Linked DNA regions of Homo sapiens. The protein of the gene in region 3 interacts with the protein of the main gene of each other region in a pairwise test. Each region holds a gene or a part of one and is shown on either strand. Other genes may lie near its edges.

Evidence for each region.
Region 1: the proteins of LRCH3 (region 3) and DNAAF11 interact in binary tests that used the Homo sapiens proteins (3 or more experiments, as listed by UniProt).
Region 2: the proteins of LRCH3 (region 3) and DGCR6L interact in binary tests that used the Homo sapiens proteins (3 or more experiments, as listed by UniProt).
Region 4: the proteins of LRCH3 (region 3) and MYO6 interact in binary tests that used the Homo sapiens proteins (3 or more experiments, as listed by UniProt).

Annotation. Positions count from the first base shown.
Region 1 is NC_000008.11:132,672,539-132,679,823, forward strand, and holds the start of DNAAF11 (dynein axonemal assembly factor 11), read right to left. Parts: upstream 3,008-7,285; 5' UTR 2,956-3,007; coding exon 2,946-2,955; exon of another isoform or gene 2,020-2,945; intron 1-2,019. UniProt on the Homo sapiens protein: Involved in dynein arm assembly, is important for expression and transporting outer dynein arm (ODA) proteins from the cytoplasm to the cilia. Acts as a crucial component in the formation and motility of spermatozoal flagella.
Region 2 is NC_000022.11:20,317,038-20,324,563, forward strand, and holds the start of DGCR6L (protein DGCR6L), read right to left. Parts: upstream 3,024-7,526; 5' UTR 2,952-3,023; coding exon 2,842-2,951; intron 2,763-2,841; coding exon 2,602-2,762; intron 1-2,601. UniProt on the Homo sapiens protein: May play a role in neural crest cell migration into the third and fourth pharyngeal pouches.
Region 3 is NC_000003.12:197,864,229-197,871,261, reverse strand, and holds part of LRCH3 (DISP complex protein LRCH3), read right to left. Parts: intron 5,840-7,033; coding exon 5,791-5,839; intron 5,151-5,790; coding exon 5,043-5,150; intron 1,103-5,042; coding exon 984-1,102; intron 1-983. UniProt on the Homo sapiens protein: As part of the DISP complex, may regulate the association of septins with actin and thereby regulate the actin cytoskeleton.
Region 4 is NC_000006.12:75,913,239-75,920,037, reverse strand, and holds the end of MYO6 (unconventional myosin-VI), read right to left. Parts: intron 5,976-6,799; coding exon 5,757-5,975; intron 5,226-5,756; coding exon 5,026-5,225; 3' UTR 501-5,025; downstream 1-500. UniProt on the Homo sapiens protein: Myosins are actin-based motor molecules with ATPase activity. Unconventional myosins serve in intracellular movements. Myosin 6 is a reverse-direction motor protein that moves towards the minus-end of actin filaments.

The DNA.
Region 1 (7,285 bases), on a different chromosome or scaffold from region 3:
CTTACTGTGTGGCACTGGGCACGCTGCTTAACCTCTTTGTGCTCCAGATTCCTCATCTGCAAAATGGAGGTGATGATACTAGTGTCTACCTCAAAAGATTTTTGTGAGAATTCAATGAGTACACACACAGAGAAACTTTCAGAACACTGACTAGAAGGCAATAAGCAGCTCAATAACTGTGAGTGAGCTATTATTATCATCCTTTCTCAGGAGCCCAAATTTCTCCTTTAGTTGAAGGAGGTTGAGAATTGTGGAAAGAGCCGCGAAAGCCGGGAAGCTCGTATCCTAGGTTCGACGTCTCTCCTGACTGACGGGATGTGACACTGGCTGAATCAATGTTCCCCTCCTCATCTCTAAAATGAACAGGTACACTAGATGAACTCTCGAGCACGGTCTCTCTAAAACCTGTACTAATGACATCCCTGCGTCTTTTTTTGGAAAATACAGGAAAGGCAGCGGAAAAAAGGGCACACAGGAGCAGTCAGGAGATGTTAGCAAGAGGCAGAAGGCCATTTATTGGGAAGCACGGGGGAGAGAGAACATGTAAAAAGGGTTTGTGGCACAGCAAAAGAGGACCACTTTCTCCACCCACATCTTTCAAATCTGTCCACTCGCCTCAGTCCTGTGGGCGGCAGTGCGGTGTAATGCAGGACCCAGAGGAAATCTTCGTGGGTTCTGTTCCCAGCCCTGATAGTTACTGTGTGATTTACTCTCTGTGCCTCACCAAAGAAATAGAGATGTCAGTAATCCTTCCCTGCCTTAAAAGGCTGCTGGGAAGATCAAACAAGAGAATGCAGGTAAAGCATGTTAACCAAGCCTGGCACATCAGAGCTACTCATTGGAGGAGTGCTTGTCATCTGTCCTGTTGCCACGACCTCAGTTCAGCCTACTATCTCCCACTCGAACTCCTATAGGGCCAAGCTATGCCCATGAACAAAACCTTTTGGTTTCTCTGTGGCTCTTTTGATAAATTTCTAAATCCTAAGTACAAAACCTGTATGAGCGGATCCCTGCCTACCTGTCAGGCCTTCCTTATCTCTTTGCTCTCCACTCCTTCTTTCTGTCTCACACCAGTTCCTGTCAGTGACAATTAGCCACCAAGAAGCCCTGCTCTTTCTCACCTCTGGGCAATTCACTGAGCTTTCCTGTTTCCTTTCCAGACAGCACTGCTTCCTCAGAGAAGCCTCCACCCACCTTGGGGTTAGGTCCCCTACCCACACCCTCAGGGCACAGGCACCCCTCTCTCTCCTGGCTGTAACCACTATACTTCTGTTTGTCTTCTCCCTCCCTAGGAGGGTAGGCCCACATCTGCCTCCTTCCTCACTGTATCCTGCATTCAATACCTGATTCAAGGTAGACACTCCGATGCAAGTCTGACAAGTTAATGATTTAACAAATCAAAGTGGGCACGACTCAGAGAAAGAGGGCAAAGGAAAATTCCCGACATAAAAAAGCGAAGAAGAAGGAGAAGGAGAAGGAGGAGAAGGAGCAGGAGGAGCAGGAGCAGAAGGAGCAGGAGGAGGAGGAGCAGGAGGAGGAGGAGCAGGAGGAGGAGGAGCAGGAGGAGGAGGAGCAGGAGGAGGAGGAGGAGGAGGAGAAGGAGGAGGAAGAGGAGGAGGAGAAGGAGAAGGAGGAGGAGGAGAAGGAGGAGGAGGAGAAGGAGGAGGAGAAGGAGGAGGAGGAGAAGGAGAAGAAGAAAAAAACCAACTAGGGTGAGACCAGGGGATGGGGAGACAGCCCTGAGAAGAGAGGAAGAAATATCAGTAGCTGATTTAGGAAAGGAGTTTCAACATTTACAAATCACTCCCCCCCGACCCCCACCTCTCCCACTTGCAGGCTGTCAGGTCTTCCAGGGCAGAAAGCCCATCATCTGGAGCAGTCTCTTGATTTAAAAAAAGTTAATTATGACATTTTTACAATGATAAGTGATCAATTAGGTAGAGCTGTACAAAACTGCCATATGGGGAGCTCAAAAACGTTGTCGATATCAAAATGGTTCATACAATATAAATAACTTACCCGCATCACCTTGCAGTTTGTTAGTATATTCTTAAAGAAACACGTTTACTACCGGGCGCAGTGGCTCACGCCTGTAATCGCAGCACTTTGAGAGGCCGAGGCGGGCGGATCACCTGAGGTCAGGAGTTCGAGACCAGCCTGGCCAACATGGCAAAACCCCGTCTCTACTAAGAATACAAAAATTAGCCTGGCGTGGTGGTGCACGCTGTAATCCCAGCTACTCAGGTGGCTGAGGCAGGAGAATTGCTTGAACCCGGGAGGCGGAGGCTGCAGTGGGCCGAGATCGCGCCGCTGCACTCCAGCCTGGGCGACAGAGCAAAACTCTTGTCTCAAACAAACAAACAAAAACACGTTTATAACACTTACTGTGTCTAAAACAGTAGTATGATTGCCATTATTTTGGAGATGAAGAAGCTGAGGCCCAAGGGGTGAAGTCACTCGCTCAAAGTCACAGGAAGAGGGAGGACTTCAACCCTGGCTCCAGAGTCGGAACCCTCCACCATTAGGCTACACTGCCTTCCGGAATGAGTCCGAAGATTGCGGCTTGGAGACAGTGACTGGCCCACGTTCACAGCCAGTAAGGAGCCACTTGGCCGGAACGTGGTGTGTCTGGCGCCAAAACCCCTGCACGTTCCCCGACCCCTTTCCTGGAGTCCAGTGCCTTTCTGCCTCTTCCTCCCCTTCCCACGGCCCCGCCCATTTTACAGATTAGGAACCTGAGCTGGAAAAGGCCAGGCTGTCCGGCCAGTCTGCAGAGGACCTGGTGCAGCCGGGGCTGCGGTGCGGAGGGCCGGGTGGGGTTAGGGTCCGCCCAGGCGCGGGGGAACCGACAGCGCAGGGCGGGAGCGGGCGGCGAGGATCCCACGAGACCCGGGACTACTTCCACAAGGGGAACGATCGAGGACGGAAGGTGGAGGGGGGCTTACTCCAGCCCATGGCGCCTCTCCAGTTCGCTGACCCCGCAAGCCGGACCCGGACCTCGAATGACGCTTTTCACCCTTCACCCCTGCTCCTCAGCGCGTCCCCGTCGGAATTCAGGAGCCATGGCAACGGGGACTCTACGGCGGCCGCGCGGGACCAAAACAAGCCGCGTTTCCTGAGCTCCGCGGAGCAAGCAGAGGAGACCGCAGTGAAGGGGCTCAGCAGACAGGGGTTCCCCAACCCAAACCCAGTCTTCGTCCTCGTCGCACTTCCGACTTGCCACAGACTGCTTCCCTCTCCCTGAATCAATGGTTTAGAGTGAACAAAGTATGAGGACGCTTCTCTTTTCTGTGCCTTCCAGGCTTGCCTTCCAGACCGCCTTTGACTTTTTCCTTTTTGTGTTTGATTTACAGCTTCCAGAGCCAACAGATCTGGATTTGGCCCCCAACTCTACCAGCGGCGTGACCTTACACTTCCTTCTCCTCAGTTTGCACATCTGTAAGATGAGAAATAACCTAAGAGGATCACTGTGAAGCTTTAATTAGATAATTTGAGTGAATGAAAGACACTATGAAAACAACAGGCTCACTATAAAGATTCGTTGTCGTTGTCATATTCCAGCTTTTTAAAGTCACTCTCCAACACTCGTTTCCGGCTAACAAGCTTTCCAGAAACGCCACCCATTACCCCCTCCATCAATTTCCCTATTCTCCACTCTCTTAATTGTAAAATGTAGGAAGTATATCTCCTACAGCCCCACACTCCCCTCACGTTTCCCCAGACCCTTCTCCAAAAGTGTGCAACGCGCCTTCTCCCATTCTAAACTAGGAAGCACATCAGCAAGCTCATTCACCCTCAGATCTTAGTGTTAGCACTTTAATGCGTTAGCTTCCCAAGAATCTTTAAAAGGTACCATTATTATGAAAGTAATTATTATTCTTTACTCCATTTGCAGAAAAAGGAGGGGGGCAATATGTAAAAGGTAAAACCTTCTCCCATCCCAGTCGTTTTAAACAGTATGGAGTGCGTGCTTCTTATCTTGATGTGTGTATTATGTTTGCATTTTAAAAGAAGATTCCTAGAGCAATGCTGAGTGCAAAGAAATTAATTTTTCTAGCGAATAGCTGTTAAGCATTTACAGCTGGCAATTATTAGAGTTTGCCAGGTAGAGACAAGGTCATGAACTTGGACAGAGAGGCAGGAAAGTCTAACAGAGTGAGGTGATGGGGGGAAGCAGAAACATCAGTTTGGCAATAAAGAGAGCTAGATAGAAGGGATCTTCGAACAGTAAGAATGAGAGATTAGATCGGGGGTAATGGGGGCCTTAAATGCCAGGCCAAAGGAACTGAACTGGAAGAGTGGGATTTCAGGCACTATTTCCCTGAATATTTGGATTTCCAAGGAGGCCTCCCAAAAGGCACTCAAACTATAAACTTACCTGACATCCACTATTATTTTTCTGAAAGCAGGTTAGTGTGAGGTGAACAGTATTAGCTCTGGCATTGGAAACATAGATTAAATACACAGATTTATTACTGTGTGGCATCAGACAGATGACTTCACCTTTGAAAGCTGAAACTTCTCTATTTCCACATGATGATGACAATATGGGTAAACATCTGTGGTCGTGCCACTGACACGCTGACACTGACACGTGACACTGAGCACTGATGTCTGATTACTCACAAAGGAGATGAAATGCTATTAGCAGCAGGCAAGTTTAGCAAATTCGCCTGTGCTTGAATTGTGCATTTTAACAACAAGGGGTTCATCAAGGCTAAAAAGGATCTAGCTTCTAGAAGGAAGCTACTACTGGGCAGAAAGATTAGTTTCTAAGCTGACAAAAGCATGAGGTCAGGCCTACTATAAAGGATCTCAGCTTGCAGTGAACTAGGATTGTGCCATTGCTCTCTAGCCTAGGTGACACAAAGAAACGATGTCTCTTAATAAAAATTAAAAAAAAATAATAAAGGATCTCAGCCTCTGGATCAGGAGACAAAGGGAGCCACTCCAGAACCGCAGAAAGTTCTCAAGAGCAATTGCAACCCAGGTATTTGACATGTTGGCTCTAAGCTTCTATCCTCACTCTCAGACCTACTCACTGTTGACTTAAAAAAAGAAACTGAGGTAAAATTAATATATATAGTCCCAGCTACTTGGGAGGCTGAGGTGGGAGTACTGCTTGAGCCCAGGAGTTCGAGGCTGCAGTGAGCCATGATCACTGCACTCCATCCTGGGCGACATAGTGAGACTCTGTGTCTAAAAAAATCGGGGTGCTGGTGCGTTGGGTGCCTGATGAGAGCCTGGTCTCCACTTCCAAGATGGTGCCTCATTGCTGCATTCTTCTGAGGAAAGGAGCCCTCTGTCCTCACATGACAGAAGGGATAGAAAAGGTGAAAAGGGGTGAACTCCATTTGGCAATCCCTTTTATAAGGGCATCTAATCCTATTCATGAGGGTGGAGCCCCTGTGACTCAATCACCTCCTTAAGGCTATGCCTCTTAATACTGCTACATTGGGGATTAAATTTCAACATGAATTTTGGAGGGGACAAAAACATTCAAACCACAGCAGCCCCTTTGACAACTAGAGAGTTCAAGAGTAAGATTGAGAGTTTAAGAGTGATGAGAAAGAAAATAAACTTTCTATCTGAGGAATGGGAGCACCCTTTAAATTATCAGGCCCAGAGAGGCACTGAAATGTGACAGCAGTCAAGTTCCAGTCCCCCATCCCCTTAAGCTAAGTAATCGTTTCAAAGCTGCCTGCCGTATGGACCCTAGACTGCGTGTTGCCACCAATGGCTATAAATAAACCTAACAATGCTGTACACTGGACATCATAACTCATTCCCTATAGTTTAACAATGTACAACCAATAACTAATCAATGTTATTTCTGTAAACCAGTGAGAATTCCTAACAAGCAACTTTCGTAGTCACCCGTTTCCTGATTAGTCCTTTTTTCTTTAAAACTGGAACCTCAACTTTGTTCTCCAGAGCACTTCCCAGTGTTTCCCAGGTTTCAGTCTTCAACCTTGGGACTATGTGTGTGCACCATCATGCCTGGCTAATATTTTTTTAGATTTTTTTATAGAGATAAGGTCTCACTGTGTTGCCCAGGCTGGTCTTGAACTCCTGGCCTCAAGAGATCCTCCCGCCTGGGCATCTTAAAGTGCTGAGATTACAGGTGTGAGCTACCGTGACTGGTGCCTAGTGCCCTTATATTGAACTTCCAATATTGGACTTTTATCAAGAATAAAAATAAATTTTTATATAAAAATAAATTTATAATTTATTAATATTTATAAGAATTTATAAGAATAAAAATAAATTTTTATTCTTGAGAAATGACTTAGTCTTAGATATTTCACTATAGAAGTAACAACAGACTAGGACATGTGCCTTGGATTTTTCCTGTGAAATTTTATATCTGTGGGACTCAAGTATTCTGTTCATTCATTCATAAGTGAATAAACAATTGGGCTGTCATTCTACTGGAGAAAAATCTCTAAGATACTTTTAAGCACTGTGCGCTCAACACTGCCCATGTACTTTGAAATTACTAACTCAATTCTCACAGTAACCCTCAAGCAGGTCATATTGTCATGAATATATTACAGATTAGGAAACTGAAGCCCAGTGATATTATTTTACTAAAGCATAGTGAATCAGAATTTTGTGCCTAAACCTTAATTCTATACTGCATCATTTTTTTAGACTGAGAGCTACTCGAGGGCAGAGAGGGAATTTTGTTATTGTTGTTTGTTTGTTTCCATCCCTGAATCCTAGCTCTCGCAAAATTCCTGACACTTATTGGGTGCTCAGTAAATATTTGTTGAATGATTGAATGGAGGAGTCAGTGAGCCAATTTCTTCAAGAGCTTGGCTGTCTTTGGTGTAAGGCCTACATCTTGTCACTTCAGTAGGATCACCAACCACAGAGGTGTCCCTGTTGTAAAGGAATCTAGCAGGCTTACCAGGAAGTGTACCTCATTCTCTGGTTATTGGACTGTTCTTTTTCTTGGGACCTTTTCACCAAAATCTAGGATAAGATCTGGTTCCAGGGGCAAGGTCTTGACAGATTGTCCTGACACTCTGGTGGAGCAGTGTTTGGCTCTGTGTTCCCACCCAATTCTCATCTTGTAATGCCCATAATTCCCACGTGTTGTGGGAGGGACCTGGTGGGAGGTAATTAAACCAGGGGGTGGGTCTTTCCCTTTCTGTTCTCGTGATAGTAAATGGATCTCACAAGACCAGATGGTTTTAAAAGTGGGAGTTTCTCCGCACAAGCTTTTCTCTTTGCCTGCTGACATCCACGTAAGACATGACTTGCTCTTCCTTGCCTTCTG
Region 2 (7,526 bases), on a different chromosome or scaffold from region 3:
GGAGGGAGGGGTCCCTGGCCAAAAGAAAAGGTGAAACCCAACACTCTGTTCCTGGGAAGAGCCCTGATGTTGCAGCTCTTCTCTGGTGGCCAGTCCCCAGGGAACTCCAGGGCCCCTGAGGCTCCCCTGCAGGTAGCCTGGCTCCCGCTGTGCCTACAGCCTTCCCCGATCTCCTGTCTCTTCACATTCTGTACACACCTCGACGATGGTATTTACCAAAAGCCCCCCTCAAGACAGCTCCATAACACAGGGAAGCAGGGAAATGTCATCTCCTTCACTCTACTGATCAAACATTGCTACAAGTGCCAGGTCCACTACCAGATTCCACTAGATAGACAACCAAAAGGCAAGAAGAGAGCCACGCTGGCTGCCTGGGCAGAAGGGGCCTGGCCTTAGACATGACCAGGGAACACAAAGGAGGCAGGAGCAGCCAGTCGCCCCTGCCAAATCAGCAGGAGAAGCAGAAAGTCAATGCAGGCATGCCTGCTGCTGGTGGAACCAGGGCCTGGCCCAAACCTTCTGAAGCACAAACAGCATTGGGCCCAGGCAGTTACTAAAACTCCCCATCCTGCTATAAGGAACTATAGCTCTGTGGAAAAATGGCCGATTCCAGGACTGAGACACGGAGAAAACAAGAAAAGATGAGCCTGAACACATACCTGAACCAGAAAGCAAGAAAGTGCTCACAGAATGATGGGGCGGCATCTAAAGGTGCCTGGAGCGCCCCCAACTGGCCACACATGGCACAGTCTGGGCATTAAGGAATAATGAGCCATGCGCTTGGGATTAGTAAACTACATACATCTTACAGCTCAATAAAAAATTTTAAAAAGACAATCGCCCAGACATTTAGGGGAAGAAGTAATGCCAATTCTACACAAACTCTTCTGGAAAACTGAAGAGGAGAGAACACTTCGAAACTCATCCTATAAGGCTGGCAAAAACCCTGATACCCAAACCAGATATTACATGAAAACTATAGACCACAGTTTATCATGAACATAGACCAAAAAATTCTTAAGATTTTAGCAAATCAAATCCAGCATACATAAAAAGGATACTACAGCACGACCCAGTAGGATGGAATTCAAGTGACTGTAATTCACTGTAGTAATAGAAAATGATTCACCACGTGATCATCTCAAGAGCTGCCGAAAAGGGAACTGCCAAAATCCAACATCCATTCTTGATAAAAACACACCAATCCTGGAGCAGATGGACACTGCCTGCCTTCTGGGGAAGGGGGCCTTGCACTGCTAGGAGAAATTTTTGCCACATTAAACCTGCTTCTAATCAGGCTTCTACCAGCAGTCCAGTGTACAGGAAACCCAGAGAGTGGAGAAGCAGGTTAAATGCAAGAGGAAGCATTTCGTCTGATAGATCAAGAGCAGGGCATTCTATAAAATTAGAATGCCCTGGACTCTACAAAAAAGTCAATGCCACAATAAATGTTGGGGACTGTTTCAGAAGCAAAGAGACCAAAGTAACCAATTGTAGTACATGAACTTGGACTGGATCCTTACTTATAAAGCAACAATTTGCCACAAGTTAGGTACCATGATGTGGCCGTGCACTGAAAGTCAGGAGACACCCGGAACAGTTAATTTCTCAGGGGGCTACCTTCTGCAGCTGTGTAGGAGACCAGTTTTGTTCTAGAGCACTTGCTCCCAATCCAAGGCCAAGGTTGACCCCACCACCCAGGTTGTCTGGAGGCATTCTTGGTTTTCAGGACTAGGGAGGGTACCCCTGCCATCCTGCAATGCGCAAGACAGCATCTCACCAAAAAGACTTACCCAGCCACAAATGTCAGCATGGCTGGGTTGAAAATCCTGGTCTCCAGGAATGCTGAAGACTCTTGGTGAATGCTATGCTGTCACATGTATATATTTTGGGATGTCAAGAACTAGAGCAAAACGTTAACTATTGAACTTTAGTGAAGAGCACAAGCGTATGCACTATACTATCTTTTCAGCTTTTCTAAATGTTTTAACTTCTAAAATAAGAAGTTTGGGAAAAATAACAAAGGTGGAAACTGATGGTGCAGGGGGACCTGCCCTATATAATTTGCAGGAAAGGGCTCCCAAGCCCACCAAGCAGGCCTGGCTCAAGTGGGAAGCTCTTCGGGTTTGGGAGGGCGCCACAGGAGACAGTGCTTAGGAATTTGATGTGCAACTGGAATGAGGCCCTGCGAGGCCTGAGAGGGAACTGACCCTGAAAGACGCTTGCTGCACAACTGTCAACAGACTTCCAACTACTGAGGGGCAATGCTGCTGCAGTCAGCGCCACCACCAGAGTCTGCCTGCAGGCCAATCAGGCACCGAGGCCTAGGGCCATCCTGTCTGGAAGCGCGTGGGGCACAGGGAAGCCCGAACAGGGAGTTTCTGCTAAGAAGGTGGGTGCTGCGCAACTGAAAACAAAACTGGTTGGACCCACTGATCACCAAAAAGGCGCTGTCTCAGTCTCTGCGCCCGTTGATTTTGTCAATCTTAGAGACCTCTTCCGAACACTTCCAAGGAAGGAGCTGATCTGCACAGATACCAAGAGCTGCCCGGAGGCGCCGACCCGGAGGAGGCGGCACCTCATCCCGCTGCCCCCGCGCACCTCGGTGCTCGTTCTGTAGGCGCAGGCGCTGGTTGTACAGGCTCTTTTCGGTGAGGTGCTGGATCTCCAGTAGCCCCTGCACGATTTCGAACACGGTGCCGTCGAGAAGCGCCAGGGCCAGGTCGCTGAGCGTGGTGTAGGACAGGCGCTGCTGGAAAGAGCTGCGGGTAGGGGGGCGCGGTGAGCCCCGGCGGGAAACGAAGCCGCCTCCGCAGGCCTCCGCCCGCCCCGCCTGCGTACCTGGGCAACTCCTTCACCAGGCTCTGTAGCGCCGACAGCAACTGGTAGTGTCGCTCCTGCTGCCGGGCACCGTCCGCCACCTCCTCCAAGGCGGCCGCGTAGCGCTCCATGGCGCGGACGCCCGCTAGCCGCCGGCGGCGGCGACGAGCTCCCCCAGCTTCACGACATCCCGAGCGCGGCGCGTCCCGCCCCTTTTACGATTGTCCCACGCGCGGCGCGCTCCGCCCCCTTTTACGACAGTCCCGAGAGGGCCTGGCCGCCTGCCCCGCCCTGCCCCGCGCCCCGCCGCCTGCTTATTCAGGAGGCGCGCCCCGCTCCTCTGCGGAGACTCCAAGGAGGGTTTTGCTCAGCCCAGGCTCGCACCTGCCTGCTCCCCGCGCGACATTAAAGGCGAGACTCCGCCGTCTGGATATCGCAGGACCACGGAGAATCCCACCGGCCCTTGCTGAGTCATTGCGGGCCGAGGTCCGGGCTCCGCGCCGGCGCGCCTGCGAGGTGGACTGTCCCGGTCACCGGCCTCCCCAGAGGCAGGGGTCTCGGGCCAGAGCCCACAGGACCTGGGTCTAAGGCACCATCCGCGGCCGAGCAGTGGCGCTGGGGTCTGTCTGCGTCCTCCCCGCCCCCGGGGTGAGACAGACAGGACCGCCCTAGAGCCTCTGGGTCAGGACAGTCGGAGCCAGAGTCCCCATCTGGGCCTCCGTGGCCCCCAGCCCGTGAGCCCAGACTGCGCTCTCCCCGCTCCACAGGCCAGCTGCTGGGCCGGGGCTGGGGGGCTTCTGGTGGCTGGGGCTGAACCGTCTAGGAACAGGCTTTAATAGGAGGGGCTCGGGTGGAGGAATGGCTCCTGCAAAGGCCCTGCCAGAGTCAGGTCAGGTGGGTGGGCGAGAGGACCAGTGTGGCCAGGCTGCGGAAGCCAGCACAGGAGACAAGGGCGGGTGCTGTGCATTACAGAGGCTGCTGGGGGCTTGTCCATAGAGCAGCAGGGGGCACGGAAGGGCTTGGGGACGCAGACACGATCAGACTTGCATTTCATCAGGCACTCTTTAGCTGCCTGCTGGGTGGCTGGGCTGTGTGAGATGACCCTGCTTTGACCAGGTTAGGAATTATGACTGGTTTCCAGAGAGAACATTGGTTAGTAATTGGCTATGGGGAAGAGGGGGCGTTGAGCCAACCAACTGGGGTCCCCCTGAAGTGCCAGCAAAGTGTCTGGTTTTCTCCAGGATCTGTTTCCTCAGTCCCTGGCAGGATTGGCTCCCCTGCACGCCATGTCCTTGTGGTCCCTTCCAGACAGAAACCAGGCATGAATAAAGTGAATAATGACAAGCGCTCAGGCCACTGCCGTGGAGGGCGGTCCACAACCCAGAGCTGGTCATGCGCCGGGCACCCTGGCCTCCAGGTCCCTCAGAATGGCAGGAGCTGGAGGTGGGACTCGAGATTGTGGGAGCTGAGTCTGTAGTGAGTGACCAGGAGCCAGCTGGGGCTGGGCTTGGTCACTGTCACCTCCCCCGGAGGTGGTGAGTGGGATGATTAGCTGGGTGAAGACGCCTGCCTGTTTCACCAGTGTCCCTGCCCTCAGTCCCCCAGTCCATGAAGAGTGTCTGTGTGGAGACTGGGAGGATATAGGGCAGCCCCACGTGATGATATGTCTGTGGCCAGCTGGGCAACACTGTCGCCAGCTCCGGGGTCTGCCAGGTGGGGTGGGGGCTGTGAGCCACAGCAGGAGCAGGCCAGGCCTGGGTTTGGACACCTGCTCCTCTGCCTTGTCCGGGTGCTGATGCAGGAAGGCCCCTTCTCCAACCCTTGGTGCAACGTCTGACCTGAACCAGCTTCCCCAGCCCAGCAACACTGCTCCCCTAATGTGGATGTCAACCTAAAGAAACAAACTGAACCACAGTTCATATAGAGAGTTTGTCTGGGCCAAGGCTGAGAGAGCTGCCCAGGACACACCAAGTTGCCCTGGGAGTGCTTCATTCAGCCTTATTACAAGCAAGTTTTTAAAGACTGAAGGGGACAAGGAGTGGGCTGATATGAAGTCAGCAGGAATTCTGACTGCTTTCCAGAGAGAACCCTTAGTGACTGGCTATAAGGTGTTGGACTACTGGGTAAGAGTTATGGTGTCCAGCGTATGGCTTTTTATGCCTACTTGGTGTCAGTCTGGAACCCACAGAGCAATTGGCTTCAAGAGGTCGTTAGCTCAAGTAGGAGTGGGATGTGACTGCTGTTTCATTCCAGTGCCTCTCTGGGCCAGATAATTAAAGGGAGCTCACATTCCTCAGATAAAAAAGTTCCTTTCGCATTAGGAGAAATACGTAATGTAGATGATAGGTTCATGGGCACAGCAAACCACCATGGCACGTGTATACCTATGTAACAAACCTGCACGTTCTGCACATGTACCCCAGAACTTAAAAGAATATATATATGAATATATATATATACTTTATACATATATATATAAACTTCCATTGTGCGCGCGCGCACACACACACACACACACACACACACACAAAGTTCCTTTTCTTTTTCATGGACATGAGCAGTATGTCACTCAGGCATGGGGACTCCTGGGCCACCTCTGGGTCTTCAGGGAGGGCCTGGTCTGGAAGGAGGGGTCTCATCCTCCAGAGCCCCAGGGATGGGTGATATATGTGTAGGAATGGGGGAGCTGGTTCGCAGACGTGCGTTTCCCCTGTGTGTGTGGACACGATGGGCCCCATGGCTCTTCCCGTCGGGTGGTATCCACCGAAGGCCTTTGCTCTGCGGCCACTGTCCACCTCCACTTGGCCTCCCGAGTCCACCAGGCTGGCTGGTGACACCTTGGGTTAGTGTGGGGTGACTGGTGTGTGTTGGGGAGCTGCAGGTCCCCTGTCTCTGACACAGCTGTGTCTGGGCAAACACCAAGGTTTGAAGGAGTGGGTGCCTGTGTGTGTGTGTGTGTGTGTGTGTGTGTGTGTGCGCGCACGTGTGTCAAAAGGCTTTGCTGCATGCCTTTTGTGTGGCTCTTTGTCACATGTGCCTTTCTGTGTTTCTCTGTGAGTTTTCATGTGTCAGGTTGTATGTCTGTTGTGTGGGCGGAGAAACAGCTCTGCTGTGGGGCCCTGAGCCATTGCAGGATCCCCATAGGCCATGCAGAGGTGCACACAGCACCTGACCTAAGCCTGCTCCTCCCAGAACATCAGGCTGCACCCAGGCCACCGCTCACTCCGTCTGTCTCCCGAGACTGTTCCTCACTTCCTGCCTCACTGGCCCTGGTGAGGGTGAGGCTCCCTGCCCCCGGCCCTCAAAACAGAGCTGCAGATGAGGACGCCACCCAGCTGCAGTGTCAAGGGGCTCCTCCACAGTGGGTGTCCCGCAACGCATGCTCTCTGACCCCTTTTGTTTCAGTGTTGTCCTTTTTAGTGTGTGGCACCAGGACAGCAGGGAGCTGCCACCTCAGGCTTCTCTTATTTTCACTCTGTGAGTAATAAGGTCTGAATGAGAGGGGCTCATTGTGTCTTTACTGTCAAATCAGTCAGGCCTTGGCCTTGGCATGTCTTGCGTGTGCTTGACAAATGTATTGCTCATGGGGTCTGGTGGAGGCACAGCACCCTTTTAGAAGACAGGGTCTGTGCGGACCAGTTACGGGTGACATTTCCTAGGCACAGCTCTTGCCTAAGTGGTGTGGGATGGGAGGAGGGCGGGGCTTCCCACTGTCCCACCAGCAAAATGGGCTGTGTGGCCAGCTCCTCAGGACCCGAGAGCATTTGCTCCAGGTTGATAAAATGTTGCGGTGTTGGGTGGCAAGAGTAGGATTGAAACCAGCCACCCAGTTGGTGCTTTGTTACCATCAGAAGTGTTTGCTGAGTCAAAGCAAATGGCCACTCAAAACTGAGTGGGCTGAGTGTGGTGACTCACACCTGTAATCCCAGCACTTTGGGAGGCCAAGATGGGCAGATGGCTTGAGGCCAGGAGTTCAAGACCAGCCTGGGCAACAGGGTGAGAGCCTGTCTCTACAAAAAGTTTAAAAAATTCGCTGGCATAGTGGCATGTGCCTGAAGTCCCAGCTACTTGCCACTTGGGAGACTGAGGTGGGATCACTTGAGCCCAGGAGGTCCAGGCTGCAGTGAGCTGAGATCACACCACTGTACTGCAGCCTGGGCAACAGAACAAGAATCAAATAATAAATAAGTAAGTAAGTGAGTAAATCCATCCATCCACCCCAGAGTGAGTCAGCTGGGGCTGCTGCATTGCTCCTCCCTCACCCACAGGATTCCCTGGTTCCAGCCAGGAGACGATGGTCAACAGCCACTGCTGTAGTGGTGCCTAGTTAAAACTCTTTGGTTTCTGTCTCTGTAAAAAAAAGTGTCTAATTGCATTTGGGCAAAAAACTTGCAGTGAAGAGAGAAAAAGAGATGAAAGCAACCTGTGAGGGAGGCTCGGGTTGACGTGCGGCATGTGCTGTTTGAGTGTGATGAGTGTGTCGGTTTGCACTGTAGATGCTCAGGAAGTGAGGATATGTGGAGTGCTGACTGTATACATGATGCCTCCACTGGCTGGCTGAGTAGAGTTTCATGAAACAATGTTGGTGGACTCAGCCCTGAATCCCTCAGGCATTCAGAGAGCAACCTCTGTCTTTTTTTTTTTTTTTTTTTTTTTTGAGATGGAGGCTCGCTCTGTTGCCCAGGCTGGAGTGCAGTGGTGCAATC
Region 3 (7,033 bases):
AGTTATAATGAAATCTAATTAAAAATCAAGATAAAAAGGAAATAAGTACCACAATATCCATTTTATCCCTCTATCCTAAGTTTAACTTAAGGAGATCTAATATATATGGACGGCAGCCAGGGCATAGTGGTACAAAGTACAACAAAAATTCATTTACAACTTTCTGATTAAAAAAAAAAACCTAGATTCTCCTTCAATTCCAACATAAAATAAAGAGGCAATCACTCACTATATATGTGTAAGTGTGATATTTATATATGTGTGCACACACATATAAATTATTACTGACAATATTTCTTTATAACAGGAAGTAGAAAAAAGGAAAAAATTTAAATGAGTAGAGCTAGGAATTGAGCTTTATAGAATAAGCCATCTATCTCATTTTCTAAGTAAATAGCTGAAAAGAATTTCCTTAATAGCAAAATGTTTACATTCATCACAAAACATGGCACACAATGGGCACTCATTTAATCTGTTAAAAATTACAGCCGGGCGCGGAAGCTCACGCCTGCCATCCCAGCACTAATCTGTTAAAAATTACAGCCGGGCGCGGAAGCTCACGCCTGCAATCCCAGCACTAATCTGTTAAAAATTACAGCCGGGCGCGGAAGCTCACGCCTGCCATCCCAGCACTGTGGGAGGTCGAGGCCAGTGGATCACCTGAGGTCAGGAGTTCGAGACCAGCCCGGCCAACATGGTGAAACTCCTTCTCTACTAAAAATACAAAAACTAGCTGGGTGCAGTGATGGGCGCCTGTAATCCCAGCGACTCAGGAGGCTGAGGCAGAAGAATTGCTTGAACCCACGAGGCATAGGCTGCAGTGAGCCAGGATCATGCCACTGAACTCCAGCCTGGGTGACAGAGTGAGACTCCGTCTAAAAAAAAAATAAATAAAAATGATGTGTCAAATGAAGACGTGATCACAGGATTATGATCTATAGCAGTAATACTGAAAAAGTGTAAATCAAAGGTAATGTACATACTTTACGCAGTTGGTCTATTAATTCCAGCTCTTCTTCTCTCTGTCTTGAATTCTGTCCTGTTATGGAATCTGTAGAATCAGTGGTAGGTGCAGCAGATGGAGGAAGGGGTGAAGCATGACCTATAAAAATATTAATATGTAAGACAGAAAGGCAACTGGCAGTGCTAGGAGAACATCCGGCTCTGCCTCATCACAGTTTCCCTGCAAGTGCAGTGCATGGCTTTCTACCTCCTGCAGGTACAGTGCATCGCTTTCTACCTCCTGCAGGTACAGTGCATGGCTTTCTACCTCCTGCGGGTACAGTGCATCGCTTTCTACCTCCTGCGGGTACAGTGCATCGCTTTCTACCTCCTGCAGGTACAGTGCATGGCTTTCTACCTCCTGCAGGTACACTGCATGGCTTTCTACCTCCTGCAGGTACAGTGTATCGCTTTCTACCTCCTGCAGGTACAGTGCATCGCTTTCTACCTCCTGCAGGTACAGTGCATCGCTTTCTACCTCCTGCAGGTACAGTGCATCGCTTTCTACCTCCTGCAGGTACAGTGCATCGCTTTCTACCTCCTGCAGGTACAGTGCATCGCTTTCTACCTCCTGCAGGTACACTGCATGGCTTTCTACCTCCTGCAGGTACACTGCATGGCTTTCTACCTCCTGCAGGTACAGTGTATCGCTTTCTACTTCCTGCAGGTACAGTGCATCGCTTTCTACCTCCTGCAGGTACAGTGCATCGCTTTCTACCTCCTGCAGGTACAGTGCACGGCTTTCTACCTCCTGCAGGTACAGTGCACCGCTTTCTACTTCCTGCAGGTACAGTGCACCGCTTTCTACCTCCTGCAGGTACAGTGCACGGCTTTCTACCTCCTGCAGGTACAGTGCACCGCTTTCTACTTCCTGCAGGTACAGTGCACCGCTTTCTACTTCCTGCAGGTACAGTGCACCGCTTTCTACTTCCTGCAGGTACAGTGCATGGCTTTCTACCTCCTGCAGGTACAGTGCATCGCTTTCTACCTCCTGCAGGTACAGTGTATCGCTTTCTACTTCCTGCAGGTACAGTGCATCGCTTTCTACTTCCTGCAGGTACAGTGCATCGCTTTCTACTTCCTGCAAGTACAGTATATTGGTTTCTACTTCCTGCAAGTACAGTATATTGCTTTCCACTTTCTGGATTGACTTTTTAAAAGGGTTTTTATTATGGAGATTTTCAAATATACACAACAGAGAATAGTATAGAAAAATATGTAATGTTCATTACCCAGTTGACTCAACTACTTTTGTTTGATTACATCCACTTAAAAATGTTTTTATTGAAAATTAATACACAGAAAAATACACAAATCGTAAGCACAGTGCTCAAAAAATTCTCCTCACCAAGTGAACACAATCAGGTTTTTAATGCAATCTTACCAATCCCAGGAGCCCCTTCCATGCTCCTTGCCCATAAGTACCCAACGTGCTCAAAACCGCACCCTGACTTCTAACACTGTAGGCTGGTCTGGTTCATTTTTGAACTTTGTATAAATTATGCTGTATTGTATGTATTCTTTTGCTTCTGGCTTCCTTTGATCAATGGTAAGTTTATGAGATTTATCCATGTTGCTGTATATAGGAATTGGTTCATTTTCATTGCTTATATGGTATTCCATTGTACAAATATACCACAATTCATTTATCCATTCTCTTGATGGACATTCAGTTTCAGGCTATTATGAATAATGCTGCTATGAATATTTTTGTACACGTTGTTGGTACACGTGTGTACATATTTCTCAAAAGTAAAACTGCTGGTCATAGGGTACACAGTCATCCGTCAGTATCCAGGGGAAATTAGTTCCAGAAACCACCTCTCTCATACCAAACTTTGTGGACGCTCAAGTCACTCATATAAAATGTAGTATTATTTGCATACAAACTATGCATATCCTCCTTTATACTATACTTTAAATCATCTCTGTTACTTACAATACTTAATACAATGTAAATGCTATATAAATTGTTACTATACTGTATTTCAAAATTAGTATTATTTCTTTATTGTGGCATTGTTTATTATCGTTGTCTTGTTTCTGAAGATTTTTCTGTCCATGACTGGTTGAATCCATAAATACAGAATCTGTGGGTACAGAGGCTGACTGATAACAGTCTTCCATGCTTTCTTACACTCTCACCAGCAGTGCATCTGTAGTTTGACTTTTAAATCTTACTGTGAATGCATCTGTTGGTAACATTGAAGGTAAGTTGTGTTTTTTTTGTTTTTTTGAGACAGGGTTTCACTTTGTTACCCAAGCTGGAGTGCAATCGCGCAATCTTGACTCACTTCAGCCTCAACCTCCTGGGCTCAATCCATCCTCCCGCCTCAGCCCCACAAGTAGCTGTGACTACAGGCCTGCACCACCATGCCTTTTTTTGTTTGTTTGTTTTTGTTTTTGAAACGGAGTCTCGCTCTGTCACCCAGGCTGGAGTGCGGTGGTGCGATCTCGGCTCACTGCAAGCTCTGCCTCCCGGGTTCACACCATTCTCCTGCCTCAGCCTCCCGAGTAGCTGGGACTACAGGCACCTGCCACCATGCCTGGCTAATTTTTTTTGTATTTTTAGTAGAGATGGGGTTTCACCGTGTTAGCCAGGATGGTCTCGATCTCCTGACCTCGTGATCTGCCCGCCTCAGCCTCCCAAAGTGCTGGGATTACAAGTGTGAGCCACCGCACCCAGCCAATTTTTTGTATTTTTTTAAGAGATGGGGTTTTGCCATGTTGCACAGGATGGTCTCGAACTCCTGAGCTCAAGTGATCCCATCTACCTCGGCCTCCCAAAGTGCGAGGATTACAGGCACGTGCCACCACGCCTGGCCTATTTTTTAATTTTTTTTGAGACATAAGTTTCACACTGTCATCCATGCTGGAGTGCAGTGGCGCAATCTCAGCTCACTACAGCCTCCACCTCCTGGGTTCAAGCGACTCTGCCTCAGCCTCCCGAGTAGCTGGGATTACAGGCGCCTGCCACCATGCCTGGCCAGTTTGTTACTCTACCGCCCAGACTGGAGTATAGTGGCGCCATCTTGGCTCACTGCAACTTCTGCCTCCCAAGTTCAAGCAATTCTCCTGCCTCAGCCTCCTGAGTAGCAGGAATTACAGGCGCCTGCTGCCACACCCGGCTAATTTTTGTATTTTTTCAGTAGAGACGGGGTTTCGCCATGTTGGCCAGGCTGGTCATGAACTCCTCAAATGACGTGATCTGCTCGCCTTGGCCTCCCAAAGTGCTGGGATTACAAGTGTGAGCCACCGTGCCCAGCCATTTTTTGTATTTTTAATAGAGACAGGGTTTCACCACGTTAGCCAGGCTGATCTCAAACTCCCGACCTCAAGTGATCTGCCTGCCTTGGCCTCCCAAAGCACTGGGATCACAGGCGTGAGCCACCACGCCTGACCTTATTTTTGTTTGTTTGTTTGTTTGTTTGTTTTAAGAGACAGAGTCTTGCTCTGTTGGCCAAGCTGGAGAACAGTGGTGCTTTTAATTATAACTCATTGTAACCCTGAAGTCCTGGGCTCAAGCAATCCTCCCCGCCAGCTTCCCAAGTAGCTGGGACCACAGGCACACACCACCATGATAAAAGTTGTTATTTTTGACTTGAAATGTTTGTTTCCACTCCCAGGTAACTTCTTTGGGGACCAGGGAGAAATTTGTCATTATTAACTAAAAGAACATGAGACTTAAAGTAGATTTTAAAACAATTATTGTTTTAAGAAAACAGCTTTTATCAATAGAAAAATGTGAAAAAGAGTTCATTACCAAGACAAAGAACATTCTCTAAAGCCTCGAAAGCGCATTTTATTTGTTCAAACACTCTATAACCTGCTTTTAGGTGGCACTAAGAAACTTTCTCATCCAAACAAATTCAGATAAGATTTTCCTGCTTTAGTATCAGTGAGATCACAGACACATGCTTTTGCCGAGCTGATAGCTTTGTCTTATACTATATGCAGAAGTTTAAAAGCATCCATCTAACAGCTAGCGTCGTTGTGTAAACCTCCCCTCGCTCCTGGCTTTTAAAATCACCACCACCTACCTTTGTTGGTTTCTGCCCTGACACCTGCTCGGAAAAGGAAGCTTTCAGGGCGCTGAGGCTGATTTCTCTGGATAGCAGCAGGAAAAGAATATGCAGGGGAATGATGAACTAAATTAGCATGAAAAATAAAATGAGATTAAAGGAGATGAAAATATAATAGCAGACATACAAGTTACAAAAGTAACAAGTAAAAAATAAACATGGCAATGATATAAAATAATTCTATTTAATGATGAAAAGTCTGGTACAGAAAATAATCATGAAACCAGGAGGACCGCTTGTATGTATTTTACATTGTCATGTTATTTTTGGTGTTATCAATAAAGGCAGAATGAATGTTATCATATTGAACAGTCTCCCGCAGACCTACGGCTGTTGTTCACTTATTCATATCAAATGGCTGACTAGCTGAGCAACCAATTTAATTTAAAAATGGGAAAAAAAAAAAAAAACCCAGTGGTTTCCAATTCTGTATCTGATTTCTATCTCAGAAAAAGCAGCCACAGCTCTCTAACAAGTAATTTAGGAAAATCTTGGTAAAAAATTATAATCTTAGCCGGGTGCTGTGGCTTACATCTGTAATCCCACCACTTTGGGAGAACAAGGCAGGAGGATCCCTTGAGCCCAGGAGTTTGAGACCACCCTGGTCAACACAGAAAGGCCTCGTCTCTATTTATTATTATTTTTTAAATAAAAAAATAAAGAATTATAATCTTGATGTGGTTAATTGCACCTTTGTGTCTATTACCTGTTTCTGTTGCAGGTGAACTTAATAGAGCATTAGGTCTGTCATCACTCTGTGGAGAAACAGACATATATCAATAATTGTTATTCAAGAAGAAATACTTTCTACTTTTATGGTAATTTTGAAATTATAAAAGACAAAAAACAGGTAACTCTCCTTCACGATTAAGTCTAGAGGTGAGAATTTGGGTCAGGTGCAGTGGCTCATGCCTGTAATCCCAGTACTTTGGGAGGCTGAGGTGCGAGGATTACTTGAGAGCAGGAGTTGAGACCAGCCTAGGCAACATAGTGAGACCCTGTCTCTACAAAACGTCTAAAAAATTGGTCAGGCATTGTGGTGTGCTCCTGTAGAGGCTGAGGAGGGAGGGTTGCTTGAGCCTAGGAATTAAAGACTGCAGTGAGTAATGATTGTGCCACTGCACTCCAGCCTGGGTGACAGAGGGAGACTCTCTCTCTCCCTCTCTCTCTCTTTTTTTGAGACAAGGTCTCACTCTTGTTGCCCAGGCTAGATTGCAATGCCATGATCTCCCAGGCTCAGGTGATCCTTCTACCTCAGCCTCCCAAGTAGTTGAGACTACAGGGACACATCACCATGCCCAGTTAATTTTTGCATTTTTTGTAGAGACAGTGTCTTGCCATGTTAGCCAGGTTAGTCTCAACCTCCTGAGCTCAAGCGATGCACCCGCCTCAGCCTCCCAAAGTGCTGGATTATAGGCATGAGTTACCGTGCCTGGCCTGACCCCCTTTGGAAAAAAAAAAAAAAAAAGAAGAAGAAGAAAAAGAAATGAGGATTTGGTGAAATGAATTAATTCTGTATTTTTAAAAGCCAAGTTTTTGTTTTTTTGTTTTTTGTTTTTTTTTTTTTGAGATGGAGTTTAGCTCTTATTGCCCAGGCTGGAGTGCAATGGCACGATCTCAGCTCACCACAACCTCCGCCTCCCGGGTTCAAGCAATTCTCCTGCCTCAGCCTCCCAAGTAGCTGGGATTACAGGCATGCACCACCATACCCAGCTAATTTTTTTGTATTTTTAGTAGATACGGGGTTTCTCCATGTTAGTCAGGCCGTTCTCGAACTCCCAACCTCAGGTGATTCGCCTGCCTCGGCCTCCCAAAGTGCTGGGATTACAGGCATGAGCCACCACGCCCAGCTGTTTTTATTTTTTATTTTTGAGATGGAGTCTCGCTCTTGTTGCCCAGGCTAGAGTGCAATAGAGCACTCTCAGCTCACCACAACCTCTGCCTTTCGG
Region 4 (6,799 bases), on a different chromosome or scaffold from region 3:
GGAAGAGCTGATGAGGTGAGATGGACAGAGTCTCCTTCCACTCTCAGAGGACCCAGCAGGATCATGGTAGGTTCTTGACACAGGGAATGGACCAGCTATATTCAAGGCCTTAGGGAGAAGGAGCCTTCTTTTGGTCCCCAGTTTTTACATCCTGTGTCTTCTCACAGATTAGTAACGGTCTGGAGAAAGGCAGCCAAAATTTGGTGTGTCTCTAATCTCTACAAAATGAGTAGCTGTCACTCACACAGAATCCTGCCTGTTTCCTGGATGGAGATCACATAGGAAATTTGGGGCCTATGTCCAAAGAAGTTTCAATCACCTTGAGTTCCTTGCTTCTTCCTGCAGCCACCTAACACAGTGCTTCCAGCCCTAGCGACTGGATCAAGCTTCAGGAGCCCAGAATTCGCCAACTTATTCCATCTGAAACACGGCAATAAGTGCAACATTTACAACCTGTTCATGACACCCTGTAATGGTATTAAAAGCACAAGATGCAAGTGGAAATTCTACACAGGGAGCATTTATTTATTTGTATTTCCAGTACATCAATTTTTAGAGAAAGCATTAGATATACACTTTTAATGAAATGAGGAAAAATTAATTGACAGTTTGACTAGATGAATTTTCATAAGTAAAAAGAAAACACCCAACTAATAAGCCTGTGATTTAAAGGTGAGATGCTACTTGGTACAAATTAGGATTGAATGTGTAGATATGGACATAAAGAGTGGAATAACCGACATTGGAGACTCCAGAAAGTGGGAGGCTGAGAAAAGGTTTAGGGATGAAAAATTACCTACTGGGCACAATGTATGCTTCTCTGGGTGTTAGGTACACTAAAAGCCCACATTTTACCACTATGCAATATACCCATGTAACAAAACTGCACTTGTACCCCCTAAATCTATTTTATTTTTTGAGATGGAATTTCGCTCTTGTTGCCCAGGATGGAGTGCAATGGCGCCATCTCGGCTCCCTGCAACCTCTGCCTCCCGCGTTCAAGTGATTCTCCTGCCTCAGCCTCCCAAGTAGCAGGGATTACAGGCACCCACTACCACGCCTGGCTAATGTTTTGTATTTTTAGTAGAGACAGGGTTTCACCATGTTGGCCAGGCTGGTCTCGAAGTCTTGACCTCGTGATCCACCCGCCTCGGCCTCCCAAAGTGCTGGGATTACAGGCGTGAGCCACCGCGCCCAGCCCTAAATCTATTTTTAAAAAAACAAATTTGTACTGAAGATTCTCCTTTTGAATGTGCATTAATTTTTCCTGATCATCTCTTGAAAAACTTCTGAGACAGCTAAGCTTGTTTCATATATTAGGTTAGCAATGGGGAAAGAATACAGTGATTTGAATTGAACTAAAGCGTACTCAGAGAAGTGCTCCCAGCAGAGTAGGTGCTACTTCTGCCAGTCTCTCCATCTTACCCTTCCATGAGGCTTATGTACAGAATGCCTATTTACTGCTGACCTTCTCCAGTATGGCAGTGCCATTCCTATGTGCTAAGAATGTATACACCGGGCATATCTTGATCCAAGTTTTAATAACCATACGTTCTGATCCTATAAATTACACATTATTCATTCTAAAATTTCGTAGAGATCTAGGAGTGCTCTGTGTCCTAAAATGTATCAGTGTTTCCAAACTGGGGGTGCAGAATCTTTAGGGGCACACAACCTGTCTCTTCCACTGTTGCTCTTCTCTTTCCTTATTGTTACAACTGTTTCCCCCCCTCTAACATGTCCTTATTCTCATGTTTAGATATCCTTTGCCCTCCCCTTCCATCCTTGTTAGTTTATCTTCTGGGAGAAATTTTAAAACTCTCAATACTTGTTATTATTGGTAATGATAAATAGGGAAAACCTGTCACACCTTCTGAAGTTGTGGAATGACAGAGAGGCAACCCTTTGTAAATCCACAGGTGCCACTAAAAAGTGTTTGTTTTGGTTCTTTTTGTTACATATGATTGCAGCAAAGGCTTTGATATATTTTTCAGTCTACAACTAAATTACTTGACCTCTCTGGATCTGTTACCTCTTCCATAAAAGGAGGCAGGTCTATCACTAACATCATATTAATTGGCTGACTGATTGATTCAATAAATATTTATTCTACTGATCCAAGTACTCTTAAGCTACTTCAGGTAAAAAAAAAAACCAATGATCTACATATTTGGATCGCTGAGAACCATAGTAATGACCTGTGAATGAAAATGTCTTTTAAAAAATATCCAATTAATAAAGCTCTACAAACAATACCATTATTCTTGCCTGTGGATTGCTATTCTCTAAGTGTTCACAACCACCACTGATTTTCCACTTAAGATGTTCTTTCCTTGGTTGCTTGCAAAACAAAATGGTTCACAAGAATGACCTATGAAAAGTCATTACAGAAGCAGAATGAGCATAACAATAGAATGCCTTTGTGTGGCCCTGTGCTCCTACATGCACTGTTTTGTTTCTTCCTCATATTTTCACAATCCTCTGAGAAGGTGCCATCTCCCCAACTTTACAACTAAGAAAACTCAATATTCTCTTAACATACGTGGATTAGAGTAACTTCCTTTTCTCAATTAGTTCCCATAACTCATAATACATATCTCAACTGTGTTACCACAATTAGGAATTATATTAAAATTGAATCAAATGTGAAAACATTCTGTCCTCTCATTTTAAATATTTTATGCATGCTGCCTTTGCAAAGCATATGCTATGGAAAGAACTGGTATTAAGAAAAGATTAGTTCTTTATATATAGTGGTTTAAACTTCTAATTTTAAATCTCAGTTAAAATGATTAAAATATGAGTGAATTTACTTTTGATTTCCACAGTTTTAACCTGGCATGCATGGGCTTGACTGTGAACATGGTAAAGCAGCTGCATGAACATCATTTAGGACACCACTCCTGCTGTTTCCTTTAAAAGGCTGACAGGGTCCTAAGTTTCTCCAGCAAAGGGGTGTCTGTGTGTATGTGCATCTACTGTACGTAGGTTACTGTAAATCTATCTGAATTAGGGCAGTTGCCCTGCTGGCCAAAATTAACTCAGGAAACTATTTTAAATAGATAAGTTCTAGGACAGCTGTGTGACATGATTAGAAACATTATGGCTTAAGATTAACTATAATTGTATTAACTATTAGAGTCAAAAACTAAGGACTTATAACAACCCTTTGCTGTGATACATTTCTTACAAATTTCTGAAACATTAGATTCTCTCATTTAAATATGTTTAACTCTTTAATTTTCCATCTAGTGCCTATTAATGTATCTAAAAGATACACAAAACTATTGTACTAAAGAGACATGTCATTAAAAAACAATTTGGCTACTAAATTTTGTTCAAGAACTTTACTCACTACTGGTTAGGAAAAAAGCTTATCATTCACTATCCTACACAAATAAAAACACCAGTTAAAGGCGAGAGATGGAAGAGAGAGAATAGGTCATTTACTTCAGTAGCTACACCTTCTGTCCCCAATCACAGGGACGAAATGACCCGAGGGTGGGTGAAGCTATGCAGTAATACAGCCTTCAAAAGATAATCACATTTGCATTCTCAATAGCACAGACACAACCATTTAATTTAACTTGACAATCATTTGAATGTATCATAATAAATAAATATTTCTCTACTAAGACATGAGAGAAGCAATTCTGAAGACAGTGTCTGTGGCTCACAAACACTAGTCAGCTGGGAAATACTTCCCTAACTGAGGTAATCTTTCTAGGGAAAAAAGAAATCACTGGAATTTCATTTCAAAGGTTAGGGTCTCTAAAAACTGGGGGAAAAAGCAGTACAGAGAATCATTTTACTTTATAATTTTATTCTAAAATACAACAAAACTCCTTAGAATTATGTCAGCATAACTCCTTGATGTATTTTTGTCTTTAAATTCCAAATGTGAAAGTCATAAATATTAGGCTTAAAGCTGCTGACATTTGAATCAATACTAACAGCACACAAAGAAAACATTTTAAAATTATCAGTTATGTAAAACAAGCACTTACTAAATACAAGGATTTCTGAATTACAAAGCTTATGAAACAGGTCTACAATTACCAAAACCTCAAAGGCCAAAAAAGACACTAGGAATTTCTTAAAAAGAAAGATGTTGGAAGCAGAACACTTACTAAATCAATGAAACAACTTGGACAAGATTCTGATACAAAAATCACTATTGAGATGAAGTTGAAAGAATATTTGAATTCAGTCCAGTTAAGCCACTATGCCACCTAAAACCTATTTCCTTTTCTAATTGAAACAAAACTTATCTCAAAACTTTTAGGCATTTAAACAATCTGAATTTCCTTTATTTTTCCACAGAATATAAAAAGAATATTCTGACAGCAACACACATTGTGCTAGCAAAGAAAAGCAAATCTGTGCTGGATACTATTAGTACCTCTTATCACAGAATACATCAAATACATTAAGGCTCTTTCTAGAATTCTAGAACTTCGAAGTGTTTCATTCAAACTAAGACACTGCAAAGGAGGAAAAAAATAGATTTTCCACCTTTAATGGAAATTTCCAAAAATGTCTGAAAATGTCTATAAAGTACACAGCTTTTCAGACCAAAACATTAGTGCCTTGATCATTTTAAGTGGTTTAGTTATTGTAAGAATGTAAGCTCATGTTTTATTACTCCAGTTATATGGTACTGTGCCATCCTTAAAAAGTATTTTGAATTTTGAAAAAAGTTCTCTTTTCCTAGAGAACAATTACGATGGATGTAAGGTAGTCTTCTGGCAAAGGATGAGAAACATCAGAATATGCCCATGTGTAATAGTTAGAGAATAATGAGAGTTTTGGGAATTACAGCGGGATACAGAAAAATAATGTTTAGGTCCAAAATTTGCTACCATAATTAACCTTAAACAAATTCACCAAAAGCCGTGATTAATAAAATCTGTTCACTTTATAGAAGTAACTCTAACATGATTATGGAATGGTTAAATCTGGGGGCACACACCCTACCTAAGTACCATGGCAAAGGCTCCCAGCTGTAAGGCTGGTGTGCAACATCTACTTTAACAGACTCTGCAGCATGGCTGTTGCATAGGTGGGCCGAGCCTGTCTGCTCTCAATCGCATTCTGAAGGTACTGGATGCCTCCACAGCGTTCCCAGATTTCTTCAAACTGTCTTGGCAAGATCTCAGCACCACGCTTCCGAGTCAGGCCAGTCTCCTCAAGATTCAGCTCACACATCTCCATGTCGTCCTTACCTGTATTCATGAGATATCAGAAAATTACCATCTCTCTCTTCAGGACCATTTCTTACCAGTTGTATGCCTGAAATACCTATTAATTCTCATAGATTTGAAAACTTCCTAAGACTTTTTCTCTAAGATGGAAATCTGCTTAATAAAATCACCAGAAACAATTAAAATTTGTCCCCCATCAAGGACCCTTTCAATATTAATAAACACTGCTATTGATCAAACAAGTTACCAGAGTTAATAAAAATGCTACATTTCCTCAAGCCACTACAAATCAATGGATATGATGAAACACAAATGGAAAGGTTTTTAGGATACAGACAAGTTTCTATGTGCTAAGAACATAATTTAATCCAAGCAATTTCACATTATAAATGAGTTAATCCTCACTGAACTGGAAATGTGATTTAACCGCAAGACTCCATCCCTCAACCCTGAAATGTAATAAATTATTATATTATACATTAGAATGTTTCATTCAGAGAGTTTATGATCTTTTTTGTTCTATAATTTGTTTTCCATGTGAATCATACACACCAGCCACAAGTAGGATGGGTGGCTTGTCAGGATGGAGTTCCATTTGCCGGGCAATCCATGGTCCATCAAAATGGGCATACCACCAGCCTTTTTTCTTACTCTGAGGGTCTTTGTACTGGTCGGCAGGGCGGATGAATGGGATGCGGAAGAAGCGTTGCTGTCGGTTCATTTCAATCTCCCGCTGCCTGGCAGGAATCTGAGCTGCTGGGTTTTGCTGAGCTATTACACAGAACAAGGAAAGTTATACCAGCAGCTCAAGGGAAAAGAAAAGAGCCTTTAATCCTAAAATATACCCCAATAATTTTTTAAAAAGAAGAAAGGTCCCTAATAGTAAATTTAAAACAAAATGAAAATATTTATTGCCTACAAATTAATAAAATTCAGAGTGTTACTTCTTAGAATTGTCTTTCCCTTAAGATGTTTCTTAGCATTGCCAACACAAACACACACATACCACTACCACCACCACTACCAGCAACAAACCCCTGTCAGATTCCCACAAATCACTGTAACAGTAACCTAAAATAAACTCACACGGCAGGAAAACAAACTACTATTATTTACTAGATTTATATTCTTCCTGTAAAGAGTTCAAATTTGTACAGTAACTTTTATTCAACTATTTATGATAGAACAAAATAAACAGTAATTTCAAAAATCTGAAGGATGTAGACATTTGTCAGTTTAATCACTATTTCCACAAAAAGTAGAAGCCATATAAAAATTTTTTCTTTTGCCAACAAATTTTAGGATTTAAAATGACCACAATGACATAGATATTAACAACATTTAGACAACCATATGACAAAAAAAACCTTATAACAGTAAGCATAAACTTTCCCTTAAAGATATTTACTTACTCTGAAATCAGATTTCTCTTAGAATAAAATCCAATGAAGTGCAAAGTATGTAACATTTGATTCTCCTTGCCAAAAGAAAAGAAAAATCCTTGCTTTTCTACTAGTACTGGGCATTTCATTCATATCAATCTTTCATTCCTAGCTCAATTTTCATTACTTAACAATTAGGTTTTTCTTTTATCT